Linked DNA regions of Homo sapiens: regions 1, 3 and 4 are each linked to region 2. The links come from fine-mapping of genetic effects on gene expression. A gene starts in region 2. Each other region holds a variant in brackets. All regions are shown on one strand. Distances are between the middles of the regions.

Region 1 (6,328 bases), 170 kb after region 2:
ACACAGTGAAACCCCGTCTCTACTAAAAATACAAAAACAAAATTAGCTGGGCGTGGTGGTGGGTGCCTGTAGTCCCAGCTACTCTGGAGGCTGAGGCAGGAGAATGGTGTGAACCCAGGAGGCAGAGCTTCCAGTGAGCCGAGATCGCGCCATTGCACTCCAGCCTGGGTGACAGAGCGAGACTCCATCTCAAAAAAAAAAAAAAAAAAAAAAAAAAAAAGATGCATTCCAGTTTCAGAATGTTAAAATGTAAAATAAAAATTGTATCTTAGAATTGAAGAACGGTAATAGGGAACCAGACAAATGTGGTCTCTGCTCTAATAGAGCTCATATTCTATAGGAAGAGCAGGTGTTCGGTTGGTCAGTAGCGTGAGGAATGTGTTGCAAGGACAGGCGCAGGACACTCTGGAAGTGAATGGCAGGGCAGTCAGTGGGGTGCTAAGTCTTTCTCAAGACAAGATGCTGAAGTTGAAACCAGAAGGATGGGGAAGAGTTACTGGACAAGAGAGAGGAGGGTCAGCGGAGAAGGATCCTTCCAGGCAGAGAGAATGGCAGGTAAGCAGATCCCAAGGTGAGAAACAGCGTGATGCATTTGAGGAACTGGCAGATCCACGTGGCTGCCCTGGGGTGGATGTCAAAGAAAAGCCAGAGCTAGATGGTAAAGCACTAAAAACAAACTTTATCTAGAAAAATGGTTGCCATCAGGGAAAAGAGACCTCAGTATAGAACTGGGTTCAATTCCAAATATAATAGGAAAAGTGGGAATTTTTAGCCAAGCAGTAGGGTGGGGTTAGTGGGTGGAAAATTACTAAGAGGAAACATCAGGGTAAGGGGGGATTCTGACTCAATGGACCTAACAGGATTCTCACTGAAGGCAGGCCAGGAGGATGGTGGAGGATGGTGGAGGATGAGGAACAGGATCAGATATCAAGGGTGAGCATGTGGCAGATGGAGGATTTTGCTAAACTGACTCATAGGGCTTTTGCTAGAATCAGACAATGCAGAGAGGAACGCAGAAGCCCCAAAGCTAGGGCTTCTTTGAGAAGAGAGCTCAGAAGAACCGGAGTGGAGTTTGGTCAAGGAGAGAATCTTTGTCATGGACGGGGGAAGAACAGCCTGCAGGGAAGCTGGAGTGGTCCGTGGTGGCCTGCGTGGACTGGGGGCCTGGGAAACCATGGGAAGGATGTTGCGCTCTCTCCCATGGGCCGTGGGAAGCCACGGATAAGACACGTGAAGGTGGGGGCAGTGGGAACATATGGGGGATGGCTTCAGGAAGTATTTCAGGCTAGAATCGCCAAGATTTGATGACAAACTGGATGAGAGTAGCAAGCTGCGTTATCACCATGGGGATACTAATTTTGTGGAACTAGAGAATCTGCCGTATTATTTTCTGATTGTGCTTGCTTTCCACTTTGCTGCTCCAGGCCCCCCACTAGTCTGGGTAATTGAGAGTAAAAGAGCTTATACTTTTGGAATAGAGAGATCTTTGCTTTTTTCTGTCACCAAATAGAACCAAGTGACTAAGCAGGCAGAGATAATTTCTACAGAAGTCGTGCAGGGCATGTGATAGGAGAAGTGCTAATTTTAGTTTAGTTTTCCAAATATGGATGGAAAAAGCTTTATATTTAAAAAAAAATAGTCTGCGTTTAGGGGATCCAATCAAAAATGTCACAACCTGGAATTTGAAGGGTGGTCAGTATTTACGCCAAACCTTGTGGCTGCAAGTGATGTCAAGAGCTTCATTAGAGAGTCCGTAGGAAAGAATCATCACCCTTAAGGAATTCCTGTAGATTTTCATAGAATGAAGCTGCTGGAGGTCCATTTAACAGGAAGAATGTGGAAGCCTTTTTTCCACTTTTAATTTAGAGTTTGAAAGCCCAGCTGGGCTGAGAGAGGCAAAAATGCTGACTCCATTCGAAGAAACTGAAGGAGGCTGGGAGAGGTTGATTGCTGCCTTTGTGTACAGGTGGGGTTTTCTTCTTAGTAATAGAGTGTTTGCATGACAAAAGCTTCCTTTTCTTTAACCACAGCAGCAGGAGTTTGAAGATTTCTGAAACGTCTTTCATTTAGAAGCAAGTCAGAATGATTCTGTACTCAAAGACAGTAGTTGCTTCCTGATAACTTTGTTACTGCGGTAATCTTTAGGGCTGTTTCTTTAGTCTCCCCCATTTCTTTCAGGTGCAGGTTTCCCCTCCTTGTCCCTCTCCAGTTGGTCCCTGCCTCTGTCCTAGCTCTCTCTCCCCGGTGAATGGCGGAGTCCATCCTGGACACCTGGCAGAGTGTGATTCCTCCTGAGGTGGAAGGACTGAGTTTCAGAGCAGTCAGGGATCAGGGGTAGGGCTTGCTGTCTCTCTGCAAGTTTGCTCTGCAAGTTTCTGGAGCCCTAAGACTGCTGTGTTGTGCTGCTTGATTGTAGAGGGGACATTTATCCCTCCATGGACTGACTGCTGTGGCTCTCAGCTCCCCAACCCCCAACACCCTTTGACTCTCTTGGGTCTTTCTAACATTCGTTCATGCACACATCATTTGCAGAGTGCCTGCAATTGCCCGGTCTCACCCAGGTACTGGAAGAAATACAAACTATTATAGATCAGCTCAAAGTTGCTCACAGTCCTGCAAGGGAGAAACATAATAGCCTGCAGATAATTACCCTCAAGTGTGATAAATGCTGTAATAGAGGAATGAGCAGCATGCCGTGGGAGCTTGAGGCTGGCAAGGAGTGACAGTTTTTCCTAGGGGGATATGGCAAGGCTTCAGAGAAATGAAATCGCTGCCCAGTCTTTACAAATACATAAAAATGGACCTGAAAACAAACGTGGGGCTGGGCATCTAGCCAGAGAGGGAATAGTATAGCCAAAGACAGAGATTCTGTATGGCTGGAGCAAAGTGTGCATGTGTATGTGTGGGGAGTGGGAGACGTGAAACTGTTAGGGTGCATTGAGGCTGACTGCTGGGGGCCCCCTCCCTGCAGGATCCAATGAGAAGGTGGAGACAGAGGAAGAAACCCAGGAGAAATGAGATGTTCAACCCTGGAAAAGAAATTCATAGGAGCAGCTCGTTATCACTGCATGCCGTGAGAATTCTGCTTATCCTTGTGTCTTACTGAGCCCTGCTAGCCTACAGGCAGGATGAGCCTGGGGAATCGGGGAATCGTAGACCTGTGAATTTCTAGGGGTGAGAAGAGTTTGGGAAGCTCAGTGACCATAGAAGGGATATCCTCCCCCTCCTGCTTCCAACAAGTGGCTTGAAAAACTTACCTGGGTTATTCAATCAGGTCAGTTATGTCTTTTTTTTTGGCCCCAGTTTGACTTCCTGATAGCTTTGTGGCCAGTGAAAGGTGGAAATGTGCTCTGTGTTGCAAATATGTCAGTTCTTGTCACATCCCCCAAGTACTCCAAGCAGCTCTTTCTTGTTTCCACCTTGTTTTCCTCTCTGGAAACCCACCATGTTATCAGTCTGTTTCATCTTTTTTTTTTTTTTTTCTTTCTCTGAGATGGAGTCTCACTCTGTTGCCCAGGCTGGAGTGCAGTAGAGCGATCTCAGCTCACTGCATCCTCCGCCTCCCGGGTTCAAGCACTTCTCTGCCTCAC[T/C]CTCCCGAGTAGCGGGGATTACAGGCGCCTGCCACCACACCCGGCTAATTTTTATGTTTTTAGTAGAGATGGGGTTTCGCCATCTTGGCCAGGCTGGCCTGGACTCTTGACCTCGTGATCCACCTGCCTCGGCCTCCCAAAGTGTTGGGGTTACAGGCGTGAGCCACCACGCCCGGCCCAGTCTGGTTCATCTTTAGTTCATTTTGTGGAATGCCTCTAAATGACACTTACCCATCTTCTCCCATTGGTTCTCTTCCTTGAGATTTTGTGCCCTTTATCATGTGTCTGCTGCTCAAATTTGCATCAGTAGGTCAGCTGTTATTGAAACCCTCCTTTTTTTCTTTAAGAAAATTTATTTGTACCTCTACAGCAGAAATAGAGAGAGAATAAGTTTGTGCAAACCACACTTTATGAAATGGATCCTCATAGCACATCCTTTTTAATGCAGGCTTGTTGTTGCAACATTATTCCTGGATTTTCAAAATCCAGCCAACATGGATACCTCTGCTACTCTGAAACCCTCCTTTTTGCAGAGCACATTGCTAGGTGCTGAGAGTCAAGAGAATTCCTATGAGCTGCTTCATTCTAGTAGCTTATTTTTTAATTGAAGAGAAAGACCAGGAATACACAACCATCTCTTTGACCACTACTAACTTGAGAAATGTTGCATAAGGCCTTCTATTTAAAAGTAAACGTGAATTCCCCATATATCCAGAGTGCCAGGGGACTTAATGTATGTTAAATTAGTTGCCCTGTCCTCAGCAACTTCCAGACCGTGCACTCATGACCTTTGGAAGGGGCAGCCCTCTGCTCTCCAAGACACCTCCCTGCCATCTCAGTCATTGTTGACCAAACCTTAAGTGGACAATTGATCCTAGGCTAGTCTGTTTATCAGCTGGCCAGCAGCAAATCAGAATGTCTCTTTCAAAGACACTCAGGGCTGAATCAGCCTTAGGATGCTAAGCAAATCATTCCGTAGGATAGGACACAGTCACATAGAAGCTACAGCTGGGAAAGGCAGAATTCATAGTAGAGAGTGCTGGTCCACCTAGAGGCCAGCCCAAGAGGCCAGAGGTGGCCATCCCCAAAAGAGAGATGGAGAGAGTATTTGCTTTTTTTCCTCAGATGTTTTCCCAAATCCCCAGGAAGCCCAGTATCTCTGCCTTTTCAGTGAAGCCTCTGTCTTCTAGAGTATGCCTTTCCCTTCATTTGAACTGATTTGAGTGGATTGCAAGCTCTTACCAAGAATGGTCAGTGTCAGTCAGTCATACATGGAGTCATGGAAGACCTACATTGCATACCTCTGACAAATAGGAAGGAATGGGAAGACAGGGAAAAGGTTCAGAAAGACAGATATGTGCACATCTTTTGAGGGACTTTTGGGATCTAGTTTCTAGGGTTTCTTCTATGATTCTTTCTCACATTAGGTTCTTAATGTGGAATATTTGAGGTGGCCCAGGGATTCTGTATTAGTTAGAACATAGGGTAAGCTGCCATAACAAAGAGATCCCATCGTGAAGTGGCTAAAATGAGATGCAGGTTATGGCTTAATAAGTGCCTTCGATGAGAAAAAGATCTCTCACTTGGAATACCCCAGAGATGAGCAGTTTAGGCCAACAGGGAGCTCTCCGCTCCTCAGGAATTCCAAGACCACTACAGTGGTTACTATTTCTGAGACATCAGAAAGCGGGGAAGTACAGAAGGAGAAGACTGAAATTAAAAAAAAAAGAAAGAAAAAGGAAATAAGAAGGGGAGACCAGGACAGATAGCTTGATATATAAGAAGATGACCTGAAAGTTATACACATCACTTTCACTGATGATGTGGTTGCCTGATCATGACATATTCACATGACCACACCTAGCTGCAAGGGAGGCTGATCAATGTTTTCTTTCTCATTGTGGGTACTTATATCACCTTTTATATCCTAGGTGTAGAAATCACATAGCATCACTTTTTTTTTTTTTTTTTTTGAGACAGAGTCTTGCTCTGTCATCCAGGCTGGAGTTCAGCAGCATGATCTCAGCCCATTGCAACCCCTGCCTCCCAGGTTCATGCGATTCTCCTGCCTCAACCTCCTGAGTAGCTGAGATTACAGGCCCACGCCACCACACCCAGCTAATTTTTGTATTTTTAGTAGAGACGGAGTTTCGCCATTTTGGCCAGGCCGGTCTCAAACTCCTAACCTCAGGTGATCCACCTGCCTCGGCCTCCCAAAGTGCTGGGATTACAGGTGTGAGCCACCATTCCCAGCCAACTTCTGCCATACTCTATTGATCAAAATAGTCAGGACTTTCTATAATATTATGAAAAGGCAGAAAGGGAGATTGGATGGGTACTGGGGATTGATTAGCCACAGTCTTTGCCACAGACTCTTTTGGACTGAGCCGATAGGTCAAAGGTTAGCTTATGCAGTAGCATGGGCTGTAGGTTTTTTGCACTGATCAACACCGGAACTTTTAGAAGACTTTTAGAAGATTTGTTGCTGCTGTGAGTGACATCAGTTCACACAGCCTGAGAGAGAACTCTCAGTCCATGCTGTCCCTCCTTGGGCTCACTCAAGTGAAATGGGTCGAGCTGCAACACTGTGCGGTGCCAACCGGGAGAAATCTGCCTATCGGGGCTGAGAGACATCCTGTAGTGGCTGCCCGTCTCCTTTGCCCCAAATGTCAAGTGGAAGAGGTGCTTCACATATTTATTTCTTCCTACATGGGCTCATTTATTGTAAGCCCATTGTG
Region 2 (6,328 bases):
AATTGCCTTGTAGTGTGTACCACGACCACACAAAAGCTAATGTTTCTCGAGCAATTACTATGTGCAAGGTATCATGCCAGATACTTTATATATGTTATCTGTTTAAATCCTGGACAGCAACCCTAAGATCCAGGTGATACTGTAATCCCCATTTTACAGATAAGGAAACTAGGACTCAGAGAGGCTAATAACTTGCACAAGGTCACAGAGCTAGTTTGTGGCAAGTGAAATGAGCATAGGAGCACATCTCAGACACACCACAAGTTCAGTTTATGCTATTTTCACCTGTAATGTTGCAGAGGCTGCTGTGGGGAGTAAATGAGAAAATGTTTGCAAATTACAGAGCATTGTATGGAGGCCCACAGAGAGACGACATTCTTTCTTCCCTCCTTCAGCAATGTGAAACCGTGTCAGAAGCACACATGCATGGTCAGAGTGTCTCTTGGTAAATAAGAGACATAAAGCACTTTGTTTTTTATTTTTATTAAACCAATCTTAAAAAAGATTGATTGGCTCCATAGACCTAAACGATTAGCACTGAAACCTCTCACATTTCCTGGAAACTGAATGTTTTGCGCTTGGAATTCTAAAGAACTGGGAAAAAGGAGAGTAATAAAGTATAAAGAATAGTTTCATCTCCTACCCAGCTTATACGGTGAGGAGGAGGTTGGCAGTGATTTAGTATAAGTATAAAAACAACAGTCGGGCCGGGCACGGTGGCTCACACCTGTAATCCCAGCACTTTGGGAGGCCGAGATGGGCGGATCACGAGGTCAGGAGATCGAGACCAGCCTGGCCAACATGGTGAAACCCCCGTTTCTACTAAAAATACAAAAATTAGCTGGGCATGGTGGCGGGTGCTTGTAGTCCCAGCTACTTGGGAGGCTGAGGCAGGAGAATCCCTGGAACTCGGGAGGCGGAGGTTGCAGTGAGCCAAAATGTGCCACTGCACCCAGCCTGGGCAACAGAGTGAGACTCTGTTTCATAAATAAATAAATAGATAAATAAATAAATAAATACAACAGTTGACCTTAAATAAGGTTTTACATTAGTCCAAATGATTTCAAAGACATTAATATATTTATATTTAAAAGTGTGTGTGCCTGTGTGTATGTGAGAGAGAGAGAACGAGAGAGAGAGTCAGAGTCAAACTTGCAAAGTAAGGAAGTTGATGTGTCCAAAGAAACCTAAGGAAATAAGAACTATAGCAGTGGGTCAGTTGCATTATCTTTCCGTATCCCTAATGTTTGGAGGCAAATGAGCAGCTGTAGGAGAAATTATTTGCTTATTTGCCTCCTCAGATATTATTATCAAAGGCAGGAGGCCTCTTCCCAACAAGCTTCCCGGAACAATGCACATACCCACATGCACAGGACATTTTGCATAAAATTTTAAGGGCTTTAAAATTCTTTGAAGCCCATGGGACGATCTCCATAATATTCATCAATCCCAGGATAAAAGCCCCGAATGCCAAATCATTTAGATAATTGATTTATATTTTCCATGTGTACTATGAACTATGGAACTTAACCTTTCCTCCCTCACATCACATTTTCTCATTACCTTGAACAATCATTGGTATTTTTAAATTTTGACCTGATCCTTTTTAGCCTTTATGTTTCCAGACTACAGCACGCAATTACAGAGTAAAGTAATTGAATCTTAACACCCTTGAGGGTGTCTCCAGGGCATCCCAAAATCTGACGCAGGCATCCCTTTTATAACTGCCCCTGTACCCATACCTTCCCCTTTCTTTCAGCCAGGTGGAGTTTGTGTAAATAAACTCAACCCTTTTGAGGGGTGGATTTTAGGGATGCAGTTCTATTGTTTTGACAAATGTATACAGTTGTGTAACTACCTCTATAATCAAGATTAGAACAGTCCCACTGCCCCCAAAAGTTTTAATTTATTGATCCATTTATCAATTGATGGACACTTGAGTTGTTTCCAGTTTTTGGCAATTATTTGCGTTAGTCTTTTGCTTTTTTTGGGTGGGGGATCAGAGAGAGTGGAGCACAGAAGTGTCATCCCCTTCTTCCACCATCTAAGTCTTTTGGGGCTTTTCACCAGTGCCCTCTGGAAGCAAGTGCATTGGTGCAGCTATATTTTTTGCATTTGGGTATCTGCCTTTCATGACCTTTTCCTTTTTTTAATTTTATTTTTTCCAAATTGGGTCCCAAACGTTCAACAGGTCAAGGTGGACACTATGCAGACAAAATAACTCATGTGGTCCACGCTGTGTGCATGGTAGGTGTCAGCTGCTCTTACCGGTGGCTCCCGGATCATCAGCCTTGGAATCAGCCACCATGTTGTTAAAAATGCAGAATCTCAGGCTCCACGCCAGATCTACTGAACCAGAGTCAGTATTTTAACAAGATCGTCAAGTGTGCCGGATGCATATTAAAGTTTGAGAAGCACTGGTATTCCACACTCGCTACTAAAAATATACTACAATTTTCTCATAAGATTTGACCCTTTATTTTAACTTTTTCTCTCTCGGTAGTAAACTCACTTTGTAGTTTGAGTAAAGAACTCAAGTTTTGGTCTGGGCGCTGCATCTCGCTGGGTGTGGAAGCAAAGGCAGAAATGAGAGGGACAAAAGGAAGCAGAGAACAGAGCCCAGGCTGTTAGAAGATCCTCGCGGCCAGACCTGGGAGGCTGAAAGGCTGAGAGACCGAAAGGCTGAACCCTCCGCCGCGCTCGGCGGCCCCTCGGAGTCAGGACACCCAGGGTAACATGCGGGTGGCCACGCGCAGCCCAGGCGCTTGCAAAACTTAGCGGAGCCGGGCCGGGGCCGGGCCCGGGGAAGGCGGGAGGGAGGAGGGCCAGGCGGGAGGGCGGGGACGGCGCGGCGAGGGGCGGGGTCAGCGCCGAGGCCGCGGGGGCAGCAACGACGCCGGGCAGCGGGAGCGGCGGCCGCGCCATGTGGCTGCTGGGGCCGCTGTGCCTGCTGCTGAGCAGCGCCGCGGGTGAGTCGGGGGGCGGCCGGCGAACTTCCCGCGGGGCGCGGGGCGCGGGGCGCGGGGCGCAGCGGCCGGGTGCGATCGCGTCCTCTCCCGGGCGCGGGCCGCTCTCCGGGCGTGGGTGAGCGCGGAGGGCGGACCCCGGCGCCGGGCTGGCCCGGACCCTGCCGAGGGGCCGCCGCGGGGTGCGAGCCGTCCTATTGTGTGGGCGTGCGCGCCGGGTCGTGTTGTGCTGTGTGCGCGGGCGGGGCTCTGTGTGCAGTCCGGGTCTGGGGAGCCCGGCGGCTGCCCCGATTGGGCGTAGCTCGAGTGTGGCTGTGTGTGTGTTGTGTGTGTTGAGGAACGGAGGCGGGGAAAGGAAAGGAGAGGAGAGGAGAGAACTCTTCCCTGGTCTCATCTTCCCAGACGCCTGGTCGCGCGCGGCTGCGTTAGCCTCCTCTGGGCCTCTTCCCGAGTCTCTGGCGTGCACTCCGTGCCTCAGTTTCCCCACCTGCACCGCGGAGGGAGTAGCAAAGCTGCTTCCTTTCATTCCTCTCTGGGACTGTTTGGTTTGGGTAAAGTGAGTTGAAGCAAGGCCGGATCTGGGAATTCATTTTTCCCCACTGATCCTGGGAACCGAAGCTTTATTTAAGACGTCTGACCACCCTACTTGCCCCGCGATGGGCGCCCTGACCGGCGAGGGGCCCTGGGAGAGGACACGGGGCTTCATCCGGCGGCCCTTTGAACCTGGCATCACCACCGCGTGTGCATCCCGGGGCCTGGACCGCAGCAAGCCTCTTTCCCTTCCAGACAGCGTGCTGTTCCCAGGAACTTTTCTGCTGATGTGGGCATGATCCGAATTCCAGCCTGGGAGCCCTTCCTCCTCTGCCCCTGCCCGCCGCCCACAGCTGTCAGCTGTCCCTCCTGGACTGGGCCCGCCCTTGGCCCCTTGACGTTTATTTCTGGGCATCTGATGCCTAGAATGTGGGTGACAGGGCCCAGTGAACTTTCTTCAGCAGAATCTTGCCTGCCTGGTGTTTGTGCCATCCACATGTCCAATAGCTGCCCTATTTTGCCAAGTGCTTCTAGCAGCTTGGCTGTCGAGGTGTCTTTGGTGGCCTGTGGGTTTGCTAAGTTGAGGCTCACTTCATTCTTAGCTGTGCCTTGGAGTTATGAATGCGTTAAAGGGATATCTCCTCTCTTCCTTGATGTCCCTGGTCCTGGGCATCCTCACAGCCCACTGGGCAGCCTTTCCTGCTCTCAGACCCATGACATCATCTCCACTCCTCTGATACCCCATTTAGATGCTTATGGGTTTGCTGGGCTTCCAGGGAGGGACTAGACCTCCTGGTGACTGCTGTGGATTTTTAACCAGGTCTGGGTGAGAGTGCCCTTAAATTAGTCCACCTGGGGAGAGAGTTCTCACAGGACATTGGGCAGCCAGGAGCAGGTGTGAATTGTTTGGAGGCTGTTAGAGCAGGTCGATTTTCAGGGCGTCTACAGATATGAAGACCTGTTTGGATTCACAAATTCAATCTGTGTAGCTGTGGTGTGTCCCCTCATAGCACCTGAGAAGGACAGTATGGAAGCTGGCTCTTGTGTGTGTCCTGGGAGAGCCACTGTAGCCAAATGGAAACTTATTTATTGCATCTCCCAGTTGGTACTGGGTTGCTTTAGTTGAGTCTCCATCTCTGTAAAAATAGTTGTAAAGTTAATTTTGTCCCTCTCTGGTCAGCAGTGGCTATTTAATGTGTGTGTGTACATCTGAGATAGGGCTAAAATAAATAAAATGGTCATAGCAAGGAGCAGACGGATAGGGGGAGGAATAGTCCAACTGTCCCTGGTGGGTTTTCCATTATCTGTGGGCTTTGAATTACCTTTAGAGTTGCTGCCTTAGAAACATCTAGGCAGGTTGGAGTGTGTGCATCTTTCATGTTACATTAAGCATCATCTTTTTAGCATAGATTTCACTTTGACCCAAGTGTTGCCAGAAACAGGGCTGGTCCTTTTTCCTAATGTCAACTAGATGCTCCTGGGCTCCCAGCCCATAAGAAAAGCCTGTTTGGTTCAGTTTGGGTTTCATAGCCAGACCAGAGACCCTACCCCTCCATCCCATGGCCTATGCTTGGATCCTCTTCTGGGAAGTTGATAAAACAAGAGAGATTGTAAAAGCCAAGACTTTGGATCTCTGTCTCCATCTGATAGTCTGTGAAAGAATCCCAGGGTCAAGGTTGAACCGTAGTTAGAGTCCTGAGTCTTTGTGGGGCTGGAAAGCCACTGACATTCCAAGAGCAGTTTGGAGGCCTTTTTTATTCAGGAACCTTCTCAGACACCTTGCATATTTTTTTCTTCCTTTGTTTTTATTTGTGTTAGGGAAGTGAAGCATTGATTTTCACCGTTACTATTTTTTAATGTATCCTGCGAGAGAGACTAAGCCCAAGTCATGTCATCTGATGTCCAGTTTTCCTGCATGTGGGTGGACTCAGTGGGTTTAAGTGCGTATGGCTTGAGACATTTCTAAAGGCAGCCATGCTGGATGATGGTCCATCTTCTCACCTCCTCCAGGACTGACCTTTGCCTAGACTTCCTGACATTCTGTATCAGTGAAAAGGCTTGATTTTCCCAGGAGTGAGTGTACTCCCAGGAGTGAGTATTGACCTTTTCTCCTGGAAAGATCTGCTTAACGGTGTGAGGGGTGGGTTTTATTGTTTTTAACTTGCTGAGTAGCTGTGCACATCTCAGCACAGCTCAGCTCGGGAAGATGAGGCCTAAAAGAGGCCTTGTACACCAGAGTACAAATAAACACACCTTGTTGCTTTTCATCTTCAAAGAGATGTGACTAAGGCTCCCTACTGGGGTGTGAGATGTTTTTTCCTGACAGCCGACTTAGGCCATTTACTCTGGGATAAGTGGGGGAGGGAGAGAGATGGGAGTAGGAGAGGGTGGGGTGGTAAATTCTGGGCCTTGAAGAGTGGTTTAGACACCTTTCAGCCAGTCTGCAGGATAAGTTGAAAGTGGACTTGTATTGTCACCTTTGTAAAGCAGTTTAGAGAATTTGGAGTTTAGGAACACTTATAATCAAGTAATTTCATGTTAAAGAATTGGCCTTAAGCCGGAGTAATGGCTCACGCCTGTAATCCCAGCACTTTGGGAGGCCAAGATGTGTGGATCGCTTGAGGTCAGGAGTTTGAGACCAGCCTGGCCAACATGGTGAAACCGTCGTCTCTACTAAAAATACAAAAATTAGCCAGGTGTGGTGACGTGCGCCTGTAATCCCAGCTACTCCGGAGGCCAAGGTGGGAGAATCACTTGAACCTGGGAAGCGGAGGTTGCAATAAGCCAAGATCGCGCCGCTGCACTCCAGAGCAAGACTGCCTCAATTAAAA
Region 3 (6,328 bases), 120 kb after region 2:
GAAGCTGAGGATCAGTATTTTGTTGTTAAAGTTAGCTCATAGCTACCAAGAGATGATAGCCATGGGATTTTCTGATTCCTGTGACTGATGTAGAAGGCATTATAGAAATTTCAGGATGCCTTGGTGAAACCTTTCCTAGAGCAAGACTTGTGGTGCACTAACGTACTATTTTCCCTAAAGAGTTGTTTTCAAGTTACATCATGACACAGAGAATGTTTTCTTGTGCAGGCTGTGGGAACAGCCTGAAGGAGCCTCCCTCCCTCTCTGCCCTGTTGACACACTCACCTCTGATGTATCTGAATGGAAGTCTTCAGTTCCCGTGGGTGTTACAGTGGCTTATCTTCACATTGTAGGCCTTTATATCTGCCCTTTGCAGGTGTTTTGAGACAAAACCTGAGTTTTAGGGTTCTGCTGTTTATGTGGATCATGTGGGGAGGGCCAAGAAAACCTTTCAGAGATGCCTCTAGAGAGCTCATCAGAAATGAGCTTCCTCTTTGGAGTCCGAAGGCAAAGAATATGCCACGGAAGCGAGGATGTTTGAAGAAGGAAAACCTCAAGGTTTGCTAGGAGCCAAGGGGATGGGAGAGGGTGGAGGCTCTGAAAAGTAAACCCTTCTTCTTTTGGCAAAGATAACCCTCCTTGCCTAAGTGAGATGGAAAAGGGTCTAGAATGGAGTCCTCTCTGAGTTCATTCAGACTTGAAAACTGTCTGTGATTCTTACACTCTTCACTCATTTTCTTTTTTTTTTTTTTCTTACTTTTTTCTACTGCTTGTTAGGAGTCATCCCTTAGATATCACCTTTCATGCAGTTGGATGATACCTTTACTGAAAGACTCTTTTTTTAGGTGGAAACTATTCTGTTCTCCCTGAATCTCTGTGCTCACATCTGGTCTTAATCCCAGGGACTTGGATCCACTGTCAGGAAGTTTTTCCACCAAGTAGTGAAAAGCCTCCAGAGGCTCAGTTACCTAACCCACATTTATTTATTATCTTTTTAGATCTTTCCTCACCCCTCAAGATTTGTCTGTAGAAGCAGCGGTTGGGAATATCTTAGTTTCCTGCTTATAAATTCTCTAGAATTTTCATTCCAATGTATATGCACACAAAAACCTCTTTATCCACATATGTGTGTGCATTACAAATAGCCAAAATAAATAACCTTTAAAAACCCCTTTACATTATAATTTCCTAATCCCAAACTTGCTTGGTGGAAATTTTGCCTTTTTTTTCCTCGTCATTCTTCGTAATAAAAGTACTTTAAAGGTCGATGATAGCCACTTTGAATTCTGTTATGGTTTATAGTGTCTTTCTTTCTAAAAGTACGAAGAATATTATGGGCTTGTCTCTCTTCTGCTCCCTCAGGGCTGTTGGGGGGATGAGGAGATTTCCTTGACTTTCAATAGCCTCATGATATCTTTGTGAGTTCATATAAAAAGTTTCTTCAGAAAAAACAAATCTGACTCATCACTTTCCTTTAGAAAGATGTCTGTTGGCTTCCAGGATAATTCCAGACTCCTGTCTGCCTCGCTCCCAGACGCATCTCCTGCCGCATAGCCCATGTCCCAGGTGTCCTAACTTCTCCCAGATTTCTGTACAAGCCATAACCTGTTTCAACTCTGAGCTTCAGTTCATGCCATTCCTCTTGTCTGGAGTGTCCTTCCCTCTTTTTTTTCACTAACACACTCCTAATAATCTTTCATACCCAACTAAAATAGCACAGGTTTATGAAGTACTCCTTGGCTTCCCCAGGCTGAGTGGGTCCCACTCTTTCTGAGTTCCTTTTGCATTCTGGCCATTCCCCACGTATTAATTAAGCATCCACTGCTGGGCAGAAAGTGTCTGAAATGATAATAATAATAAATGGGAATAGTAATAATAGCTAATACTGTATAATAATGCTGGATAATCTGTAACACTCAATACTACATAACACTACATTTTATATTTTATAATACTATATTTTATAGTGTAATATCAAATAATAAGATGTAATGTATAAAACGATAGCAAATATAGTATTAACTATCATAGCTAATACTTTGTTCCAGAAAAAGTGCCAAGTAATTATTACATTGTCTTATTTAATCCCCTCAACAACTGAGCAAGGTTGGTAGTGTTCATCTCTCTATTTCCTGATAAGGAAATTGAGGCACAGAGTGGGTAACCAACTTACCATAAATCATATGGCCAATAAGTGGTAGACACAACATTTAAACCCAGGCAGGCTGACATCTAACTGCTTAACTGCTGTAATTAACTTTTTTTTGAGACAGGATCTTGCTCTGTCACCCACGCTAGAGTGCATTGGTGTAATCTCAGCTCACTGCAGCCTCTGCCTCCTGGGCTGAAGCGATCCTCCCACCCCAGCCTCCAGAATAGCTAGGACTACAGGCGTGTGCCTGGCTAAATTTTTTTTTGTATTTTTTTTGTAGAGATAAGGTTTCACCATGTTGCTCAGGCTGGTCTTGAACTCTGAGTTCAAGCAATCCACTCGTCTTGGCCTCCCAAAGTGCTGAGATTACATGTGAGAGCCACCACAGCTAGCCATAATTAACTGTTGAAAGGCAAATGTTGATACAGCTTCTGTTGTGCTTACCACATCTCATTGCAATCATCTGCTTATTGTCTCTTTTTCGTTCTCTTTCTCTTGGCCAGGTGTTTTTTTTAGCTAAGGGCCTCTTGCTAGCAGGAATCATTCTTGCAGCCCCCACACTTGGTTCTGTGTGTGGCATAAAGTGAGTTTGAGAATTAATGTTGGTGGAATGAATAACTGAAAGAGCAAAGCCTTAGACTGTCTAAACATTACATTGATTTCCACCTCATTTTTCTCAGGACTAGCCGTCTATGTGTAAAGCAATTTGTAGAACCATGAACTATGTTAGGGAAGGGAGGGCATTACTGAATCTCTACCAGATAGCAAGCATTTTGCTGTATTCTCTACATGCAAAATCTCATTTTATTTTCACAACAGCTTGGGAGTTCTATACCATCTTTATCTTCCTTTTACAGATGGGGACGCTGAGGCTGAGGGAAGTTAAGTGATTCATCCAAGATCTCAGTGATTACGTGGTGGAACTGAGGTGGAAACCTGGATGCTTCTTTTCTTTTCTTTTTGACAGAGTCTCACTCTGTCACCCAGGCTGGAGTGCAGTGGCGCAATCTCAGCTCACTGCAATCACCGCCTCTTGGGTTCAAGCGATTCTCCTGCCTCAACCTCCCGAGTAGCTGGGACTACAGGCATGTGCCACCACACCTGGCTAATTTTTTGTATTTTTAGTAGAGATGGGGTTTCACCGTGTTAGCCAGGATGGTCTCGATCTCCTGATCTCGTGATCCACCCACCTCAGCCTCCCCAAGTGCTGGGATTACAGGCGTGAGCCACCGCGCCCAGCCCAGAAACCTAGATGCTTCTTATCTCTGAGTCCTTCTGACCTCTTAACCCTAGGCTGTAGACCTCCTCTTCTCAGCATAAAAGAGAAGAGTTTTGGAAAGAATTTTCTACGAGAGAATCTTGTGGCAAAGCTGTTTCAACTGGATGCCTTCTTTCTGTATTTATATTCCAGTTAGCGTATGGTCTGTTGCTCTTTCACTCCCCAGTGTGTACGTCTGAAACAGCCAATATGTTATTTTAGGAAGAAATAATACATTGCAATATCTGATCAATAAAACTTGGAGTCTACTCCAGTAGTCATGTGGAGCTGAACTGTTGCAACAAGCAAAGGACTTTTTGCTCAAGCCATAAATTTTGCAAAGGCTAGAATTCCAGGAGTGAGTTTGCTTTCTGGGCTGTTTGTCATCTGCCTTGGGACCACAATAAAGGAGCTCCCCCGTTTAGCCCCCAGATTTCCTGGAGAATCCAGGCAGATTACTTTTTAGAAGTCAGTTATTTTTACAAGGCCTTCTTTGCTTTCTTGTCCCCAACCATGAAGTCATTTTCAAAGGAACC[A/G]CAGTTTGACCTTTTACCAAATGAGCTAGAGGACTGAATATATTAATAGCAGCAACATCAGATCGACCGCTTTTTGCAGTTTTTAGCTAGCAATGGCCACATGTCGGTTTTCACTTTGGGGAGCTGTGCATGTTGATTCAAATTATGTGAATTTTATACTTTGATTCTTTTCTAACATATACTTTTGATTAGCCCTTGTCATTCTCACATCTTTACAGTGAGCTGAATTGTAACTGGTTCATAGCACATTTTTTTATGAGAAATAGGGCTTTTTTTTTTTTAATTAATGAAAAGATGCCAGGTACTTTTGCGTATATGAGAAGCTTGTTCATACTGACCTCCTTTCAGTTGCTCCTTTACCACATTGTTCTGCCTCCAGGCCTTTACACAGGCGGCTTGGAACATCTTTGATTCCACAATTCCACAAACACTAAAATTTCAAATGTGGCCTAGGTGTCTTCTATGTATTCTCATTCTTTGCAGGTGCGACACAGAGTTTGTGAATTAATATTAGTGGAATGAAAAACGGAATGAGTAAGGCCTCATGCTGTAAATATTACATTGCTTTTCCGCCTAGACCGTGGCCGACCTCAGCTGAAACCGACCTTCCCCTGAGAAGCCTGTTCTGATGCCAGCCTCGTTCCTAGTTTGAGATTAAGCATCCTATAGCTCCCCAATCAGGGCACTATTTGCATTACATGCAGAGGCTCCTTTACCTGTCTCTGTCTTCCACTATCACAGAGAGAGCCTGTCAGCTTCGCTTTTGAATCCCCACACAACTGACTCAGCACCAGACAGGTAATAGAATGCTTAGGAATATTTTGATATTGGCCAAACAGGGGCAGATTCTTTATTGCCTCTTTAATCCTATTTTCTGTTGGGCACAGGTAAATGTAAATCCTTACAAAGTAGACAGAACTGAGTAAGTTTCAAAGCTCTAAAAAGGGCCTTTTTGCTTGAACAAAAACCGTTTGTATATGAGCCCACAGCTTTTGTGTGTGAAGCAGAATTTGTATCTTGCACACAAATGGGGAAGAAGAGAGCAGTGTTGAAATGGGGAAAGATCATAAAGAGGCCAGTTGTTTCCTTGTGGATATTTATCTCATGGTAACTCCTCTATCTGGGGTGTATTAGACTTGGCTTGAAGGAGTCATGGCCAGAGTAGGTCCCTCATTGGCTGTGTAGCCATGATTCTTGGAGCGGCAATAACATCAGGAAGAAAGGAATCATGAGGCCATTTGCTCTGTGGGTATAAGAAGGTGGTAGAATCGGTCAGAGCAGGATGTTCACATTTTAGTGCCCATTGAGATCCTTAGTGTGCTTAGTAAAAATGCAGATTCCCCTAGGGGAGAGACTCAGGAATCTGCATATTCACAAGCGTCCCTGGGGATCCTGCTGCAGGTGGATCACTGACTTGTTCTCTGCAACACTGCCCCAGAGGATGGGGAATTCTGGAGAAATACTGGCAAGTAGGACAGTCCTAAGAGCGAGAGCCTGCCCTTGCCCTTTGTCAAGGTCCTTAGTCAAAGGAGACCATGTAGCCCAGGAAAGTCAACTCAAGGAGCATCTCACAGAAGGAGGATGCTGCATTTTGCCATGATTCCTGCAACCCAGAGAAACCAATTCCAGCAAAGATCGATGCCCTGTACCCGGTGCAAATTTAGAATGATAAAAAGAAGAGTCATGGTTTCCTTGACCAGACAGGAGTGTCCCCTACTTTGCAGAATAATGAAATACACAGATGTTAAAATGAAAAGAGACAGAGATGGATGGAGAATAATAGAGCGCAGCAGCAGTTAAGGAGCAACTTAACAAAAATGCAGAGGAACCATGGGATGATCTCAGCCTTTGTGCTTCTAGGAGCGTCATTGCCAACTTGAGAGAATCAGCCCATCGCAGACAATCCTAGGCTGGAGGCTTTTCTCATAGCTGTCTGTGGCCAGAAGACAATACCAGTTCCTCAGGGAGGAGGCAGTCAACAGTCAAAAGGATACCAAAATGTAAAGCATGCATGTCCTTTGACCTAGCAGTTATACTTTCACGAGATAATATACAAGTGGGAAAAATAATATATGTATCTGGCTGTGCATTGTTTATTGAAAACACCCCAAATGTCCATCAGTAACGGGATTTATGGATACATAGACACAGTAAAGTTACCCTTAGCCATTAAAAATGATGATGTGTACCAGTAGTTATTGACAAGAAAAGATGTCACAACATATTATGTAGCAAAAACAGGTTTCAGGATAGCATATATTTTAAGGGTGCATTTAAGTAAAATTGCATGCTCGGATTTCTGCCTATTAATTCAGTCAGTAATTATTGAGTAGTCTGTGTGCCTGGCACTTCTCTGGGCATTGGAGATACACAGTGAACAAG
Region 4 (6,328 bases), 25 kb before region 2:
GCAGGGAAGGAAGTGGGGAGGTGGTGAATCTAGGAGAGTTAGAATGAGGACTCCAGGGGTTATATCACTTTGATGAAAAAATAACATTATAAGGCATGGCATATTGGTTATAAATTTGTGCAATTTTTATGTGTCAGTTTCTCTGTCTGAATGAACCTCATCTATCCTGTATCAACACAAGTAATTTGTATGTCTTTTTATAGGTTTTTGTTTCATCTTGAACTCCTAGGGCCTGAGAGCCCTGACCATCTATGTTATACCTAGAATTTAGAATTGTTTTTCCTTTTCTTTCAATCCTGATTTAGTGTGGAATTCAGAGTCAGTGCAGGCAACTCAAGAGTGTATGATTATTGCAGAAACAGGCTGCCCAGCCAGGGTCACATTTCATAGTCCTCTGAATGTAGCTGGCCCCATGTGGTCATTTCTAGTCCAAGGTATTTAAGAAAGAGATATGCTCCTTCACGCTTCCTCTTTTCTCTTCCACCTGGTTGCAGAGAACTTTGCAACTAGATGTGGTAGCTCACACCTGTAATCTCAGCACTCTGGGAGGCCAGGAATTTAAGACTAGCCTGGGCAACATAGTGAGACCCTCATGTCTACCAAAAAAAAAAAAAGAAAGAAAGAAAGAAAGAAAGAAAAATTAGCCAGGCATGGTGATGTGCACCTGTGGTCCCAGCTACTCAGGAGGCTGAGGCAAGAGGATCACTTGAGTCTGGGAGGTTGAGGTTGGGGCTGCAGTGAGCCATGATTGCACCACTGCGCTCCAGCCTGGGTGACAGAGCAAGATCCTATCTCGAAAACAAAACAAAACTTGAGTATGCCTCAGAATCAACTAGAAGGCTGTTAAAACACAGATTGCTGGGGGCTCTATCCCCAGAGTTTTTCTTCAGTAGATCAGGGACTTGATAATTTGCAAGTCTTACAAGTTCCCAGATGTTGTGGATATACCAATCTGGGCACCACACGTTGGGAACCACTGCCCTAGGGCAACACCCTTGTGTAACACTGGCTATACTTTAGACACCCCTGGAGGTGTTTTAAACTTGTTGATGCCCAAGCTGCAACTAAAACCAATAAAATCAGAATATCTTGGGGATGGGGCTCATGTATTAGCATAAAGCTCCTCAGGTAATTACAATATTGAGTTAAAATTGAAAATCACCAGTGTAAGGTGGAGCCTTAAGATTGAAGAAACATTGGTTCTTAAATCATTGAGTGGAGGAAAGCAGCCCTACTCGAAGAAATACCCACTTTGGATTGTCATACAAACAGGAAATAAACTTTTATTGGGATAGGCTGCTGAAATTTTGGAGATGATTTGCTGTTGCAGCTGGCATTATCCTTATTAATACTACAATGTTGACTATTAAGAACCAGCTTTCAAACATTCTGTTGCTTATCCTTTTAATTCCTGCCTTGTTCTGCTCTGAGAGTATTGATATGATTGGTTAGATTCTGCGATAATTAGTGGCCCGTATTTTCTAGAGGTGGAACTTACAACAGAAATAAGGTTATATACAGCACACGTAACATAGGCATAGCCTCTCTTTTTCTCTCTATCCTCGTGGCCAGAATAGCAGGGTAGCTCTAGTTCATTCTCTTCCCTTCTCCCCACTCCTTCACTTTTTCTCTCCTTGGAAACACAGTCCTCCTCCCACCTGGAAGCAGGCTCAGATTTCTTCACTCAATTTGAAAGGACTTGGGCAGCCACCATTCGGCAAATATTCTAGGCAAAGGTGACAAAATACTTTCGCTTTTTTCTCTGATATAGTTGAAAACCAAGAATCAAAACCAAACCACAAAAAACCTGAGCCAATACACATCAGCCAGAGGCAGAGAACATGAAACTAGAAAGTCGAACAGGTAATACCTGAGAATTGGGCTTGAACCATGACAGGCAAGAAGCATGAGGTCCACTCTTGCTCAAGTTTGCATTATGGTTTTTCACCAAAGCTCTCTCTAAAAATAAAGTGCTACTTACCGCTCCTGTGAAGGCACTGCTGAGAAATGGGGCTAGCCAGCCAAAGGTGGGATTCAGGTGTTTCAGGGTCCTCTGGCCAAATGTCTTCATCGACCCTCCATTAGCTAAAAAGATGGTGTAATTGTGCAAACATAAGCATTTAAAAGGCATGGTGACCAAAAGCAGATATGGATGACTTTTATTGAGGAATCAACCCATGTCTGTGTTCACTCTAAGGGAGACTAACATGTGAATAAACAACTGGACAGATTCCCCCCACCACCCATAAAACTGTCAGGTTTTTGATGGACAGAAATGGAAAAGCTAATGGCTCTAAAAGCATATGTTGCAAGTTCTGCCTTTTCATGATAAACGTAAAGGGACAATAGCCTCAGTTGAGAATCAGTTTCCTGGCTGACGGCAGTGAACTGCCCCTCTCCTGGCTGCTCTTGTTCTTGGAGCTTCCCCTCAACTTTCCCTAGTGGGAAAAGGACAACTTTTTTGGTTGTGAGAAAGAGAAAATCCAACCTAAGATAGTGCTCAAAGAAATTTTATTGAATCATGTACTGAATGTCTGAAATCAGGACTTACTTTAGACATTGATTGATTCGAGGGCTCAAGCACTGTCCTCAAGATCCAGCGTCTCTTGTTCTCGTCCTGACTTGACTGTGTTCTCAAACCCGTGTTCCCTCAATAGATGGAGATGGCTACAGCCGTTCCAACCTCATACCTCTCAAGTCAAGCAAGGATCTAGTGAGAGTCTCCTTCCCAGAATTCCCTGCAAAAGTCTCATTGTGTCTCTAATTGGCTCTAATTAAGTCACATAATTATCAATGAGCCAGTCATTGGAGTCCAAGGAAATGCAATACCTCAATGGGCTTAAACCTAAATCACATGCCCTAGTCCTGAGCCAGGGTGAGTCATCCTGGCAGAAAGAAGAAGGGATGGCGGAATTGTCAAAAGAAGGGGGATTAGATTCTGGACAGCCAAAAAGGAACAGGTGTCTGGCATAGTATCCCTGACTTCCAGGGCCAATCAAAGAAAATTCTTCCTTAACTGTTTTCTCCTGTGGGGCAGCTTAGCGGGCACATATGATTCCCTACATTATGTTTCCAACTAGTCACAATAAAAGGGGAAGGATGGAAACAGGAATAAGCCTGAAAAGGGAACAGAATTGAGGGGAGAGCTCTCCTGAGGAGGGAAGAATGAGACTGCAGAGTGGGGACTGTGTTATCCACTCTACCCATCATCTTTCCCCTGGCAGAGCAGCCTGCCCACACAGGAACCGGATCGCAAGAGCTGGTGGTGTTCTCTTTCCAATGGAGACTCACCAGGCTGATGCTTCCTTGTTTGCCCTGGGCTGCTTCTCTCCTGCCACTCTATTGACACACACATAGATCCTCTTACGATGATGCTCCATGGAAACCAGGGATGGAATGAATCAAAAGTGGTCAGAAGAACCATTGTTCTCCTTTGCAAAATAACTGAACCCTTGTTAATCTGTTGCCAGCCTTACATTTCTCCCAGAGAGATCTCCATTGG[G/T]TGGAGGCTGTAAACAGGAAACTTGAAACCCTCAGTCATCCTTTGTATTACTTATTGTTTGCAGGCAGCTGCAGGGTATTCACCACCACAGAGCTTATGCTTGGGGTTGAATCCTAGTAGGGAGATGAGCAGTAGAGTTTCTAAGACACAACCCGCAGAGGAGAAAATATACTTCTTCAAAAGGAAAGCAGAAATAAGGCTCAGAATTGAGCAAAGACACATTTTTAAATGGGTGACAGATTTGCAAGGATAGTAAAATAACTCTTAGTTTTACTTTGTGTACAATCAGCATGCCCACACACTGTGGCTATAGGAAAATGTAAAAAATTTTTAATTTCCTGTAGTCTGGCTGAAGATGGACTATTACTATGGACAATACTGAAGCTTTGGGGCAACAGAAGTAAATTGCAAAGTAAGGCATACTTTAGAAATACCAGCAGATGCAGCTGGTGTCTAGGCTCAAGAGATCCTAGCTATAAAGATGGTACCATGTGGGGGATGAGAGCTAGGACCCAGACTATATGAGTGTGAATCCCAACTCTCACACTCACCAGCTGTGGGACTTTGGGAAAGTCACTTAACCTTTTTCTGCTTGTTTCATCATCTATAACACGGGGATAATAATAGTACATACCTCATTGGGTTATTGTGAACATTATATAGGTTACTATGAATAAAGTGCTTAGGAAAATGACTAATGCATGGTAAGAGCTTGTATGTGTTAGCTATCATTATTTTTACTAAATAATTCTTCCCCATGTAGGTACTGGATTTGTTTGTTGAGTGAATAAATAGATGAATGGATAAAATCAGCCTTAGCATTCACTGCACATAAAACACAAACCTCTCAGTCCCATTTTGCCCAGGTCCATTTTCTCAGCCATGACTGGTGTGCGGTGAGGCTCAGACCTCCTGGTTGTTTCTAAAGCCTTCTTGGGTCTCCACTCTGCAACTTCTGGAAGCTAACCAACCCCCACCAACCCCTCACATATTTAAAAAACAAAGTGTAGTCTAAAATCCATTCAGGGAAAAAAGTTTATTTAAATAAAAATAAAGCAATATTGTCTGTGAAACAAGCACTTAAATAAATGAAACATTTTTCACTGTATGGAAGGACTTTGAAATGGACCAAATGCATTACTGAGTACCTTCAGTGAAAATCTATGTGCTGTCTTGGGCAACCTTCCAGGGTGTTTGATTCTGTGGGATTGCTGCACCTTTCACTGCCTTGAACAATTTTACAACTTTGTAAGTTGCAGCTAACTGATTGCAATACAAGTGATTATTTTCCATGGACATGTGTATGAGTTTTCTGTTGCTGTTTTTAAAAAACTACCATAAACTAAGCAACTTGATATAACATACATGTATTATCTTGTATTTTCTGTGGGTTAGGAGTTCAGGCACAGGTTAACTGGGTCTTCTGCCCAGGATATCAGCAGGTTGAAATCATGATGTGGTCCTGGGCTTGGGTTTCTCTCCTAAGTGCATTTCATTGACAGAATTCATCTTGTGGTTTAAGACTGAGGTCCCTGATTTTTTTTGTTGTTGTTGTTGTTTTTGTTTTTTTTGAGACGGAGTCTCGCTCTGTCGCTCAGGCTGGAGTACAGTGGCACAATCTCGGCACACTGCAATCTCTGCCTCCTGGGTTCAAGCAATTTTCCTGCCTCAGCCTCCCGTGTAGTTGGGACCACAGGCACGTGCTACAATGCCCGGCCAATTTTTTGTATTTTTAGTACTGACGGGTTTTCACCGTGTTAGCCAGGATGGTCTTGATCTCCTGACTTCGTGATCTACCCACCTTGGCCTCCCAAAGTGCTGCGATTACAGGCATGAGCCACCGAGCCCGGCCCCCTGATTTTTTACTGGCTGTCAGCATGGGCTATTCTCAGTTTCTAGAGGCCACCTGCTGTTCCCTACCACGTGGCCTTCACAACTTGGCAATTTGCCTCTCAAAGGTCAGCAGAATCTTTCCTACTTTAAATCTCTTTATTTAAGGGTTTGCTTGATTTAGATCATACCTACTCAGGATAATCTCCCTTTTGATTAATTTGTCTCAAACATTTAATTACACCTGCAAATTCCTTTCACCTTTGTTGACCAATGTAACCTAATCATGAGAATGAAATCCATCATACTCACAGTCCTGCCCATACTCAAGAAGAAGAAATTCTGCAGGGGGTCAGCCATGGTGGCTCACGCCTGTAATCCCAGCACTTTGGGAGGCCGAGGCGAGTGGATCACTTGAGGTCAGGAGTTCAAGACCAGCCTGGCCAACATGGTGAAACCCCTTCTCTATTAAAAATACAAAAATTAGCTGGGCATGGTGGTGCACACCTGTAGTCCCAGCTACTCGTGAGGCTGAGACAGGATGATTGCTTGAACCCGGGAGGCGGTGGTTGCAGTGATACAAGATCACACCAGTGTACTCCAACCTAGGCAACAGGGCGAGACTCCGTCTCAAAAAAAAAAAAGAAAAGAAAAGATAAAAAAAAAAGAAATTCTACAGTCTCAAAAAAAAAAAAAAGTTATGCAAGGCATGTACACTAAGAGGTAGGACTCTTAGAATTCTGGCTACCACAACATGCAATTAATTTTGAAAATTGTCCCTACTATTTCCCCTCAAGCCAGTTTTTGCATCTCTTCAACAAATTTGTCAGCTTTCTTGTTTTTGTTTGTTTGTTTGTTTGTTTTGGTGGTTTTTTTGGTTTTGTTTGAAACAAGGTTTCACTCTGTTGCCCAGGCCAGAGTGCAGTGGTGTGATCATAGTTGCAGTTGCTCACTGCAACTTTGAACTCCTGGGCTCAAGAGATCCTCCCCCTTCAG

Which allele goes with the higher level. Alleles are on the strand shown, and positions count from the first base shown. SD is a standard deviation of normalised expression in the study named. Not every link is listed here.
For the expression in substantia nigra of the gene that starts at base 2,887 in region 2, T is the high allele of the variant in region 4 and G is the other (small effect, 0.32 SD a copy in GTEx).

The links.
Region 1: its variant is fine-mapped to the expression of LDLRAD3 in whole blood (INTERVAL, PIP 0.95).
Region 3: its variant is fine-mapped to the expression of LDLRAD3 in adrenal gland (GTEx, PIP 0.95).
Region 4: its variant is fine-mapped to the expression of LDLRAD3 in substantia nigra (GTEx, PIP above 0.99). The same link has a PIP of 0.9 or more in prefrontal cortex.

The regions. Positions count from the first base shown.
Region 1 is chr11:36,108,129-36,114,456 of GRCh38, forward strand. All of the region lies in intron 4 of LDLRAD3 (low density lipoprotein receptor class A domain containing 3), which reads left to right. Among named protein-coding and RNA genes, the nearest start is that of MIR3973, 100 kb to the left of the region's middle. RefSeq lists enhancers at 17-542, 543-1,066, 1,591-2,114, 1,887-2,066, 3,165-3,688. The variant T/C (reference allele first, on the strand shown) is at 3,591.
Region 2 is chr11:35,941,176-35,947,503 of GRCh38, forward strand. It overlaps LDLRAD3 (low density lipoprotein receptor class A domain containing 3), which reads left to right and starts at 2,887. Exons shown (of 6, transcript NM_174902.4): 1 at 2,887-2,969. The coding sequence starts at 2,924. RefSeq lists a silencer at 2,798-3,237.
Region 3 is chr11:36,065,423-36,071,750 of GRCh38, forward strand. All of the region lies in intron 2 of LDLRAD3 (low density lipoprotein receptor class A domain containing 3), which reads left to right. It overlaps LOC101928510 (a long non-coding RNA gene), which reads right to left. Exons shown (of 2, transcript NR_135064.1): 2 at 1-1,839. Among named protein-coding and RNA genes, the nearest start is that of MIR3973, 58 kb to the left of the region's middle. The variant A/G (reference allele first, on the strand shown) is at 3,947.
Region 4 is chr11:35,916,030-35,922,357 of GRCh38, forward strand. No RefSeq gene overlaps it. Among named protein-coding and RNA genes, the nearest start is that of LDLRAD3, 25 kb to the right of the region's middle. The variant G/T (reference allele first, on the strand shown) is at 3,503.